Homo sapiens: one gene and its partners. The protein of the gene in region 2 purifies or fractionates together with the protein of the main gene of each other region. This does not show direct contact. Each region holds a gene or a part of one and is shown on either strand. Other genes may lie near its edges.

Region 1 (2,845 bases), on a different chromosome or scaffold from region 2:
CCACTTTCAGGCTGCGATGAGGGGCGATCTTGGTGAGATCACCATGTTCCTCAAAGATTTTGGAGACACCTATGTAGGAGAGAGTCTTCTTCAGGTCGAAGGTGCCCGTCATGTGGAGTCTGGGTACAGACACGTCTACGACCCTGGGGAATTGACACGACAAGGGTGAGTGGTCAAGTCCTGTTGTGTTGCAGGGCAAGCCTCAGGATACATGACCAATGAAACATGTGTCCTCCCAGCCCCAAAGGTCTCCAATCTCTCTCCATCCACAGAATGAGGAGGGGCTCCTTAACCCTGGGACCCTGGTTTCAAAACACCATAAGCTCTCTGAACCGTGTCCCTGCCTCCCAGCACACCTGCCCCAGAGCCCTCTACAGGGAGTGTTCTCAAGTCTCAAGTTCCCCCGTCTCAGAGCCCCTTCAGCCACAGTCACTGATGATGTCCACACTGTAGTCGCTGCCATGCCTGAGCCCTGAGCCCATCCTGACCCCAGAAGACCTGACACTGGAGGGAACAAGGCACCCAGAATCTGGAGGTAGACAGAACTGAGTTCAAATCCACTCTGCCTCTCATGAGCTCTGTGACCTTCCCTCTCTAAGTCACTTGTGTGAGAAGGAAAATGATCACCGTCGCTCCTGCGGGACACTAGGGGTGCTAAGGCAAATGCAGACAAGGCACTCAGCAGACAGTTGGTGCGTAGCAGGTGCCCATCCTCCTGCCCTCCAACTAGCAGCTTCACATCCTCTGTGGCTGAACCGCGATCAGCCTCCTGCCCGGAGCCTGGGGCCCAGGCTCTCCTGAGGTACCTGCAGACCCTGGATTCCCGTTCACCTGGCCTTGCACCCTATTTTCCCACCTACCCAAGGATCTCATTCCTGCCTATGTGTCCTCTCTCTCCTGCATCATCCTTAAACAGTGCCCCTTTGATCCTCCTCTGGAGGAGGCCTCATGCTAGAGTGACCCTATCCTCAAAAACTAACACCAAGAGATCTCTCTTGGCCCTGAATAGCCTCTCCAGCTTCCAGCTCATTTCTTTTCTTCCTTTTATAGCAGCTATCTCCACTCCCTCCCACAATTGCCTCAGTCCACTCCAGTCGGCTCTTTGACCTCAACTTTTTATGGAAGCAACTCTTTCCAGAGTCACCGTTGACAACCAGCCCCACGTCCCAGAGCCAGCTCTCAGTGAGCCGCACGTGATGGTAATCCCTTTCTCCAAGGTGAAGCATTCCAGGTCCACCCCTTGAGGCTTCTCCTCCTTCCCCACCACTCCTGCCCCTGTCGGGCTCCACCCCTCCCATCTCTACCGGTGACACTGCTGCTTCCAGGCTCAGACCTTGGTCCCCTTCTCTTTTCCACCTTCACTCCATCCCCATACATGTCATTCAGTCTCACAGCTTTGAATATCATCAACAGGCCCAACGACTCCCAAATTTACCTTTCCACTCATTCATTCACTCAACAAACATTTATTAAATCTCTACTGTATACCAGGTGCTGTTCTAGGTGCTGGAGATGCATCTATGAACAGAGCAGGCAAAGATCCCTGCCCCTGACTGTGTGTTCTAGCAGGGAAGACAGGTGATAGAATCAACACAACAAAAAGTACCACTTAAGCCTACATACATGTACTAGCGGTATGCAGAAGGCAGTAAGTGCTATGGAAAAAAATAAATAGATTGACTTGCAGGAATCGAGGATTGGTCCAAAGTTTGAGCAAACCTTGAGGCAGGCAAGAGAGTTAGACAAATTGGGGTTTTTTTTCCTGAATAAAATGGGGAGTCACTGTCGGGTTTTGAACAGAGGAGTGACATAGTCTTGCTTAGGATTTAAAAGGATCATTCTGTTGCCTCTGTTAAGAATATACTCTTGGTGGTGGTGGTGTGTGTAGTGGGGATGGGCAAAAATTGATGCTGGGAGACCATTTGGAAGCTAGTGTGGTAGTCACATGTTGGGAGCCACAGAGACGGCGGAAAGATACCAAATTCCAGATGTGGTTTGCTGTAGGCTAAAGGAGTTTCCTGACAGACTGAATGAGGCATTTGAGGGTGGTCAGGGTGACTCCAAGGTTTTTGGCTTGAGCAACTAAAAAGATGGAGTCACCACTGATTGAGATGGGCAGGCTTGGGGAGGTTCTCTGGGGACAGATCAGGAAGTCATTCTGGATGTGTTGACACTAAGCTCCAATTACACATCCTGGGGACATTCTGGGTAAACAGAAAGATCCACGACTCTGGAATTTGGGGGAGAACAGGGGCTGGGGATGGAAGCATGGCAGTCGTGGTAATAGAGATGGTGTTTAAAGCTCTTAGCCTGTGAGCTCACTCAGGGGTAAGTATAGACAGAAAAGAAGGCTGGGAACTGAGCCCTGAGACACTCACCTCTGAGACCTGGAGGAGGAGAGGGGTCTCCAGCAAAGGAGATTGAGGAGGGGAGAGGTGGGAGGTGATGTGAGAGTGGAGAGCTGGAAGCCAAATGAAGAGTGCCTTAAGGAGGTGGGGACAGAAACCAGCCGAAGAGCGAGGCCTGAGACTGACTGCACTCTGCAACACAGACACCCTTGGGACCCTGGGAAGGGAGCTTTCTGTGAGAAGTGGGTGCAGAAGCTGGACTGGAGTGGATTTAGGAGAGGATGAGAGGAACTAGGGGCTGTGAACAGAGGCAACTGCTTCATGGTATTCACCTGCAAAGGGGGAGTGACGAAATGGAGGAATAACTGGGGGAAAGCAGAGGTCAAGAGAAGCTTTTATGTTGGGAAAAATAATAGCATTGAGATTTCCTGCAGGCCAGCACAAGCCATACAGGCCTGCCTGCACAGAAGGCAGACACCTGCTTTGTCTTCTTGCAT
Region 2 (3,500 bases):
TTCACTTTCATTCACACTGCTCCCTACGCATGAGAAAGACCAGATGTCTGGTTTCCAGAGTATTAAGCTTTTTCCTTAATACTTCTTAATTTTTTTTCAAGTTTAAAGAAAAACTGTAGCTTCTTCTGATCTTTAGCATTCTACAGTTTAATAATTTCATATACCAGAAGTGTTTCTGCAGAAAATGAGCTTTGAATATTTATGCATTTGCAACAGTCCACAAACGGCTTTGGAAAAAATTATTTGACTTTCATTTTGAAAACTCCATTTTTCTAAAAAAAAACCATAAATTCATAGTTTTCATGGAGAAGAGTGGTGGAGTACAATGGAGCATATGGAAAGAACACTGAATTTGGAGAGAAAGGTATGAATAGATGACATTTCCTTTTCCTTGTCTGATTCCTACTAATTGTAGAAAAAATATACATTATATATGGTATTCCTCCCTTCTTAACAGAAAACAATGTTTGGAAATTCCTGTGTAAAGCTAATTTGCCATGAGGAACATAAAGCCCATTAATGGGATATCCAGGTCCCTATGGGAATTTTTTTTTTTTTTTTAAACAGACACCATGTGGTGCAATCTGTTACAGTCTACAAGGTGGGGGTGGGGAGGGGAGCTCTGCAGGGGCCAGGAATAAAGTCATCTCTGGGAGTTTTTGAGGTATTAACAAAAATGGGAAAAACACTACAGCAGGAGCCTTGGAAATGCCTTCCCTTCTGCCCTCGATCGTAACCCAGGGTGTATTACGTTTATGCTTTTCAAAAATTATTTAGCAAGTTCTCAGTTTTAGGGAGAAAAAAACCTGAACCTTTTCTGAGATGGTTAGATTGCCATTTGTTTTGTATTTTTATCTAACCCACTGGTGATTTAATTTACAGATCTCAAAGGAAGTGCATGCTCAAATATTTGAGGATGTTAATGTATCAACCACTGTGTAATTTTGGAATTTGCCTACTCGCTTGACACAATATTTTACCATCTAACAAATGTTTAGCCTTTTTTTCACTTGACTAAAGAGAAGTAAGTTTCACATTGCTTCATTCACCTTCTTATGTGCATATGCTGGGAAAGATTGGATGTTAAAAAAAAAAACAACTTCCTCATGTTCCTTTCTACTACATCTAAATCTGTTTACCAATTCAAAGCTGCTAAAAAAACCTGCATTCTCCTGCTAAATCAACTGGATGGCTAGAAACCAAACTGTAATGTAACAGAAAAAAATTATCAATTTATTTTCATGACAGAACATTCTTGAGAAGGTATAAAATTGTTCTGGTTGCTATGCCAGTTTTCTTTTTTCTTCCTTCCTCTGTCTTCTTTTTTCAAAGGCTTTTAGCTTTTAAGCTGATACTTTTTATAGTTATATAACAGTTCTAATATTTTGTGACATTTTGTATTGTGACACTATAGATGAAATTGTCATCGGACTGACACCCTGTGCTGTTTATTCCTTAATTACAACTGTTAACACTGTAGAGAAGTGTGCTAATCTGCCAGCACATATTATGAAAACAACATTATTGTTACCCACACCAACACCCACTCAACAGGATATTTCCAAGATGGTAGTTTAAAGGAACTTATCGGCACAACGGACGTTTCAATATAGTTGTTGTTGTTGCTGTGTATTTAGCTTTTCCTATTGTCTTCTTTTAAAAACATAAACCAGTTTGAAATTTAAAACATTTCATTGTAATATAGCATAGGTACCCTTTACTAGCAGAGGCTGCCTCTATAGCTGGAAAGTTATATATACATATTTTTTTTTTCTTTTTTTTTTTTAAGTGCTCAAGCAGTGGTGGACTGAGGAATCTCAAAGCTGTTTAGGGTTGTGACCCAACGCTTTCTGACTGACAGTTTTTTCAGGAATAATGAAATTAGAAGGAAGCGGGAAGGGGAAGTTTAAAGATGAAAAGACAAGAGTGGGGTTATTTGCATTCACAAGGTTGGCAATCTTTAAATAACCAAGTCAAAATCCAATAACCTTTCCCAGCTCTAAAAGGCATCCTTTTTCAAAACCAAGTCTGAGTCTTCCTGAAACTGGCTACTTATTGACTGCTTTATAGTTCAGTTCTTTCTGTCTCCAGAACTTGCAGAGCTTTGGCTATCTGTGAGGGACAAAATCCTATGAATTTATTTTCTCATAAGTTATTTTGCTAGAGCAGTTTAGGTGTCATTGTCTTTTAATTTGTTAAAAGAAACAATAATGGTTTAAAAAAAAAAAAGAACCATGTTGATCCTATACCTTGTCCCTAAAAAGTAAGGATTCTAAAAAACTTAACTTAAAACCAGAACCAAGATACCTGCTTAGAGGAGAATGATTGTAAATTTTTTTTTTTTTAAAGCAACACACTCACAACACTGACAATAATTTAATTAATAAAGAGTCCACCTTTTAATATTCGTGTTTAACACATCTATGGGTTTGGTAGAAAGCAAATTCATGACCTTGAAATAGTAGTAGGTGATAACATGTGACTTGCCAGTAAATTCTCATATCTTCACTGTCACTTAGGAGATAATCGAAGAATATGAACATATTTAATTCCTAAAGTTCCTGCAATAACCTACATACACCTTAACATTCAGCTTTATTAAACAGGCTTTTTGAAATAGCATGTGAAGAAGTTATCGCTGTGCCTCATTTTGAATGGTATTTTCTGCTTCATTTTGATTTTCAACAGCAAAAGGATATGGTGCTCTTCCTAAAAGAAACTGTTCCCATTTGGGAATATATTCTTCTACTGATGCCCAGTAACGAGTCTGGAAAAAAAAATCCAAAAGTAAAAAAGCATATCAAGCAATTGAACTTGGCTCTTCATAATAGTCTAAATGTTTATTCACTTAAGAGTGTGTATGCGTGTATACACACACACACACACACACATATATGTAGAATGCATTTCCTCTACAGAATATTTTATGTTAATTTTAGAAAAAAATCTGGCTACTTACTAGTGTTAATTTTCAAATTTCTCAGTAAAACCAGAGCCTGGCAGAATTACAGGTTTTAGAATTTTATTGTGATTTTACACGCCCTCTTGTGGCCAACTTCATGATTATTGCTAATAGTATCATTTATGGTGATATAATCATTAAATGTTTTTGTTTAATATTCCAAATCCCATACCAAATGATTACCCCATACTGAAATTATTACAATGAAATTATCAAACATAAATCATGCTTCAGGATTAACATCAAAAGATTTGACCTGGGATGAGATCAGGAACTGAAATACAACTAGTGTGTTATAGTACAGGAATTAGAGATATTGGACCCTTAATTGTGTAGGAAATATATATCCACTATAATTTTTCCCCATTTTTGTGATGACAAAATGTCAATATAATTTAACCATTTTTAATACAAATAGCTTGGAAGTTGAGATGCTGTATTATTGGTCTGACTGTAGAAGTCTATAGGCTTTAGAAGCTCATGAAACATTGCTGTGTTGTGTCTAGCTTTGGTTTCTTGGGTGACTGCCCTAGGGAGG
Region 3 (3,851 bases), on a different chromosome or scaffold from region 2:
GGGCCGAGATTGTGCCACTGCACTCCAGCCTGAGCAACAGAGCGAGACTCTGTCTATAAATAAATAAACAAATAAAATAAAGGGATGGGGCATTGGGCTGCCAGGGCCGAGGTATCAGTGGCTGGAGCTGAGTGCGTGGGAGAGCCCGGGGCCTGGGATGTTACCCAGAGGAGCACCCCTCTCCTTCCCCCAACTCCAGCCCCCACCTCCTCCCCACAGTCCACTCTGCTCCCACAATTATGGTGTGGCCTGCTACAGTCAACATTAGAAAATAAAATAGTGCATTGAGAGGAGGAGCTTTTGCATAAATAAAGTTCTCTTTTATTTCTTAAAAAAAAAAAAAAGAAAGAAAGAAAAAGAAAAAGAAACTGCAGGGTCTTCTTGCTGCCGATGGACTGAAGTGTGAAAGTCTTACTGAGCAGGGAGTTCTGGCCAGCTGGTTTCCATCTTCCCTCCCCTCCACGCACCCTGCATTCCTCCTAATGCCGCCAGGGGCCTGCACAGCTTCCCCTCCCAACTCCCTCTCAGCCTCCCTCCACTGGGCCTCGCACACGCGGGCCCCCTGGCTGGAGCCCTTAACGCCCCCTCCCCAGCTCCTCTCATCCCCAGCTCCTCTCATCCCCAGCTCTGCGCCTACCAGGCAGGTCCTCTCCTGCTCACAACTCCCTCTCTCCTCCTTGCCTGCAGTTTCCTGAGGTTTTTTTTTAAATCCTGCTGCCACTCTAGACTGATCGCCCTGAGAGCAGGGACCCATCTATCTTATCCCCCAGTGGATCCCTGGTACCAACACGTGGCTGCATTCAGTCGTTATTTGGTCAATGAATGAGTGAGTAAGTGAATGACTGAAAGCAAGAATCAAAGCAATGGCTATGAAAGAGGTGGGTCCGGCACTGAACCTGGGTCTTGGGTCCCCACCGACCCTCCTGCGGCCCAAGTCTGCACCTGCCCGAGTGCAGCCAAGGCTCCTGCCAGCCTCTGCCCCCAGCCCTCCCTGTCCACCTGCCTCAGCGAGCTCCTTCCTGCTGCCGGTGCCTCCAGGAAACCCTCCCACCTGGAAGCACAGATGTCTGCGCTGCTCTCTGAACCCTGGACAGTCAGCCTGGCCTAGTTACGTGGCCGTGTGAGGGCCACCTGCCCAGGGCCCAGGCCTGCCCTCTGCAGACACAGCTGGGACGCCATCTGTGGTCACTGCAGTGGGTGTCTGGCACCCCTGCCTGGTGAGGGCCGAGGGCTGCCTCCCTCTGACCTGGGCCCTCCAGCTGCTGCCACACAGGGCCAAGGGGGCAGGACTTACACCGTAGCTTCTCATCCAGGGTTCCCCGTGAGGTCACCGACAGCGCCTGGATGAACTCGGAGAACTCAATTCGCCCGTCCTGACAGGAGAGAGAGGGGATTGCCTCAGTCAGTGCCGGCCAGGCCACCGGGTCAGGCTGAACCTCGGGACGGGCGAGGGGCAGTCGCAGGCTCCAGACACTGTGGCCAATGGACACTCAGGTGGAGAGGGCAGGCTCGAAGGAATGGGGGGCGAGAGGCAAGGAGAGGGTGGGGAGCAGAGGCTGGGGGACTGTGTGGGGGGTTAGAAGTGGGAGAGGCCAGGAGGGAGGCACAGGAAGAAGGACTGAGGCTGAACGGAGAGGCTTACTCCACTCTTGATGGGAGAAGGTGCCAGAAGCACCAATGCCTGAGCTCCTCTCAGCAACAGCCCGGAAGCCCCTCGGCCTAGAGCTGTGGGCTCATGGGCTTTTGCAGAGGAAAGGCCGCTGCAGGTTGTTTAATTCCACCTCTTATTTGCAAATGAAGAAACCGAGGCCCAAGAAGGGAAGAGCCCTTCCCAGGGTCAGGCATGTGACTCCCAGCCTGGGGGCACCTGGGAGAAGCTGGGGATGGGATAGAATAGAAACCTCCACGGTGCCAGCAGCAGGGGGTACAGAGACAAGTGGCAGTAAATCCACCCTCAAATGCTACTGCAGGACAGAATCAGGGTCATCGCAGATAACCCAACAGCTATCCGTGCAGCCACTGCCCGGAGGTGACACAAGCTACCACATGGTAAGTCTTGAAAACATGATGCTCAGTGGAAAACGCCAGGAACAAAAGATCCTATAGCCTACGATTCTCAGAGCCTCAGTTTCCTGACCTACAAAATGGGTATTAAAATACCCAGCTCCCAGGTGCTTGTAAGGCCTCATTAAAAATAATCCATGTATGGCCGGGCAAGGGGGCTTACACCTGAAATCCCAGCACTTTGGGAGACCAAGGTGGGTGGATCATCTGAGGTCAGGAGTTCAAGACCAGCCTGGGCAATACGGTGAAACCCCATCTCTACTAAAAATACAAAAATTAGCCAGGTGTGGTGACGGCGCCTGTAATCCCAGCTTCTCAGGAGGCTGAGGCAGGGGAATTGCTTGAATCTGGGAGGCAGAGGTTGCAGTGAATTGAGACTGCACCACTGCACTCCAGCCTCGGCAACAGAGCAAGACTCTGTCTCAAAAAAAAAAAAAATCCATGTAAAGAGCTTAAACATAGTAAATGTTCAGGAAATATTGGTTATTATTATTAATCCTGTTATTATCATGGGAGGTATTTGCATTTTATGCTTGTAAGAGAAGTGTCAGGGTGTACATGTGTATACATGCATGTGTGTTGTGCACTGTATACATATGCATATGTGTATATGTCTCTCTGTGTGTACACGTGTGTGCACCTGCAAGTCCATGCATTGTGTGCATATGTGTGCATTTCTGTGCACTGTATGAATATACATGTATGTTCACGTGTGTGGCTGCATCTCCATGTATGTGTGCCCACATGTGTGCATGGTATTCGCCTGCATGTGCACATACACGTCTGTGTGAGAGCTTGGATGTGCATGTCAGTACATGTGTGGGTGTACATATGTGTGCACACATGTGCATGCATTTGGATGCATCTGTGTTTATTGTGTGTCTGCATGTGTACATGTGCATGCATTTATGTGCGACTATGTATCTGTGCATGTCAGTATGCACTCGTGTGTGTGTTCCTTCTCTAGAAGGGAACATCGGCAGGAGAGAGTGGGTGTGGAGACGCTGCGGGTACCCACAGGAGCTGAGCCAGCTGCCGCAGGCCCCATCAATCCCCAGCTCACCTTGTTTTCATCAAAGACGTTGAAAACAAATGTGGCAAACTTGGTGGGGTCTCCGAACGGGAAGAATTGCTTGTAGATCTTCTGGAAGCCTGCCGCATCCAGCTGCCCACTGGGGCAGTCCTTGATGAAGCCTTTGTACCTGGAGGCAGCAGACCGGGCCAGAGAGGGTAAAGGAGACGCCAACATCACCCACCCACCACCAACATCGCCTGCCCGGGGCCCAGGAAAGCTGTGGCTCCTTGTTCAAAGAGATGGTGCCCCATGGGGCCATGGACTTGATAGGCACAGGCGCAGTCCCACCTCTGCCTCTCACTAGCAGTGTGACCTTGGATACAGACTTCACCTCTCCTAGCCTCGTCTGCATAAGGGGGTTACGAACTGACATAGGAATTAACCCAGATACTGCACACAGAGTGAGCACTTGGCCACCCAGCCCTGTGCTCCACCCAAGGGGGCTAAAACAAGAGTCACATGAATGGCCTCCCCAAAGCCGCATGCCTGCACAAGACCCTCCCACCTCCCCACCTTCTCTGCTGAGCCCCTCCTGGCATCAGGCTGGGTGGGCTGCTGCTGGTGCTGGTGGGTAGACCACCATATGGAGCCAGCAGGTGGCTCCTCCCACATGCCCACACCCTGCCCCTCAGTCTCTGTTCCCAGGGAACTGGGTAAACAGCATGGGGGGATCCTGGCTGTTCCAACTGGACTTGTCCACCCTGCAGTCCCA

What was found.
Region 1: the proteins of CEP15 (region 2) and SERPINA12 purify together in Homo sapiens (affinity purification with mass spectrometry; one large-scale study listed by BioGRID and IntAct). This does not show direct contact.
Region 3: the proteins of CEP15 (region 2) and NCS1 purify together in Homo sapiens (affinity purification with mass spectrometry; one large-scale study listed by BioGRID and IntAct). This does not show direct contact.

Annotation. Positions count from the first base shown.
Region 1 is NC_000014.9:94,489,625-94,492,469, forward strand, and holds part of SERPINA12 (serpin A12 precursor), read right to left. Parts: intron 144-2,845; coding exon 1-143. UniProt on the Homo sapiens protein: Adipokine that modulates insulin action by specifically inhibiting its target protease KLK7 in white adipose tissues.
Region 2 is NC_000003.12:62,332,522-62,336,021, reverse strand, and holds part of CEP15 (centrosomal protein 15), read right to left. Parts: intron 2,768-3,500; coding exon 2,633-2,767; 3' UTR 1-2,632. UniProt on the Homo sapiens protein: May play a role in ciliary assembly.
Region 3 is NC_000009.12:130,217,247-130,221,097, reverse strand, and holds part of NCS1 (neuronal calcium sensor 1), read right to left. Parts: intron 3,267-3,851; coding exon 3,128-3,266; intron 1,374-3,127; coding exon 1,295-1,373; intron 1-1,294. UniProt on the Homo sapiens protein: Neuronal calcium sensor, regulator of G protein-coupled receptor phosphorylation in a calcium dependent manner. Directly regulates GRK1 (RHOK), but not GRK2 to GRK5. Can substitute for calmodulin. Stimulates PI4KB kinase activity.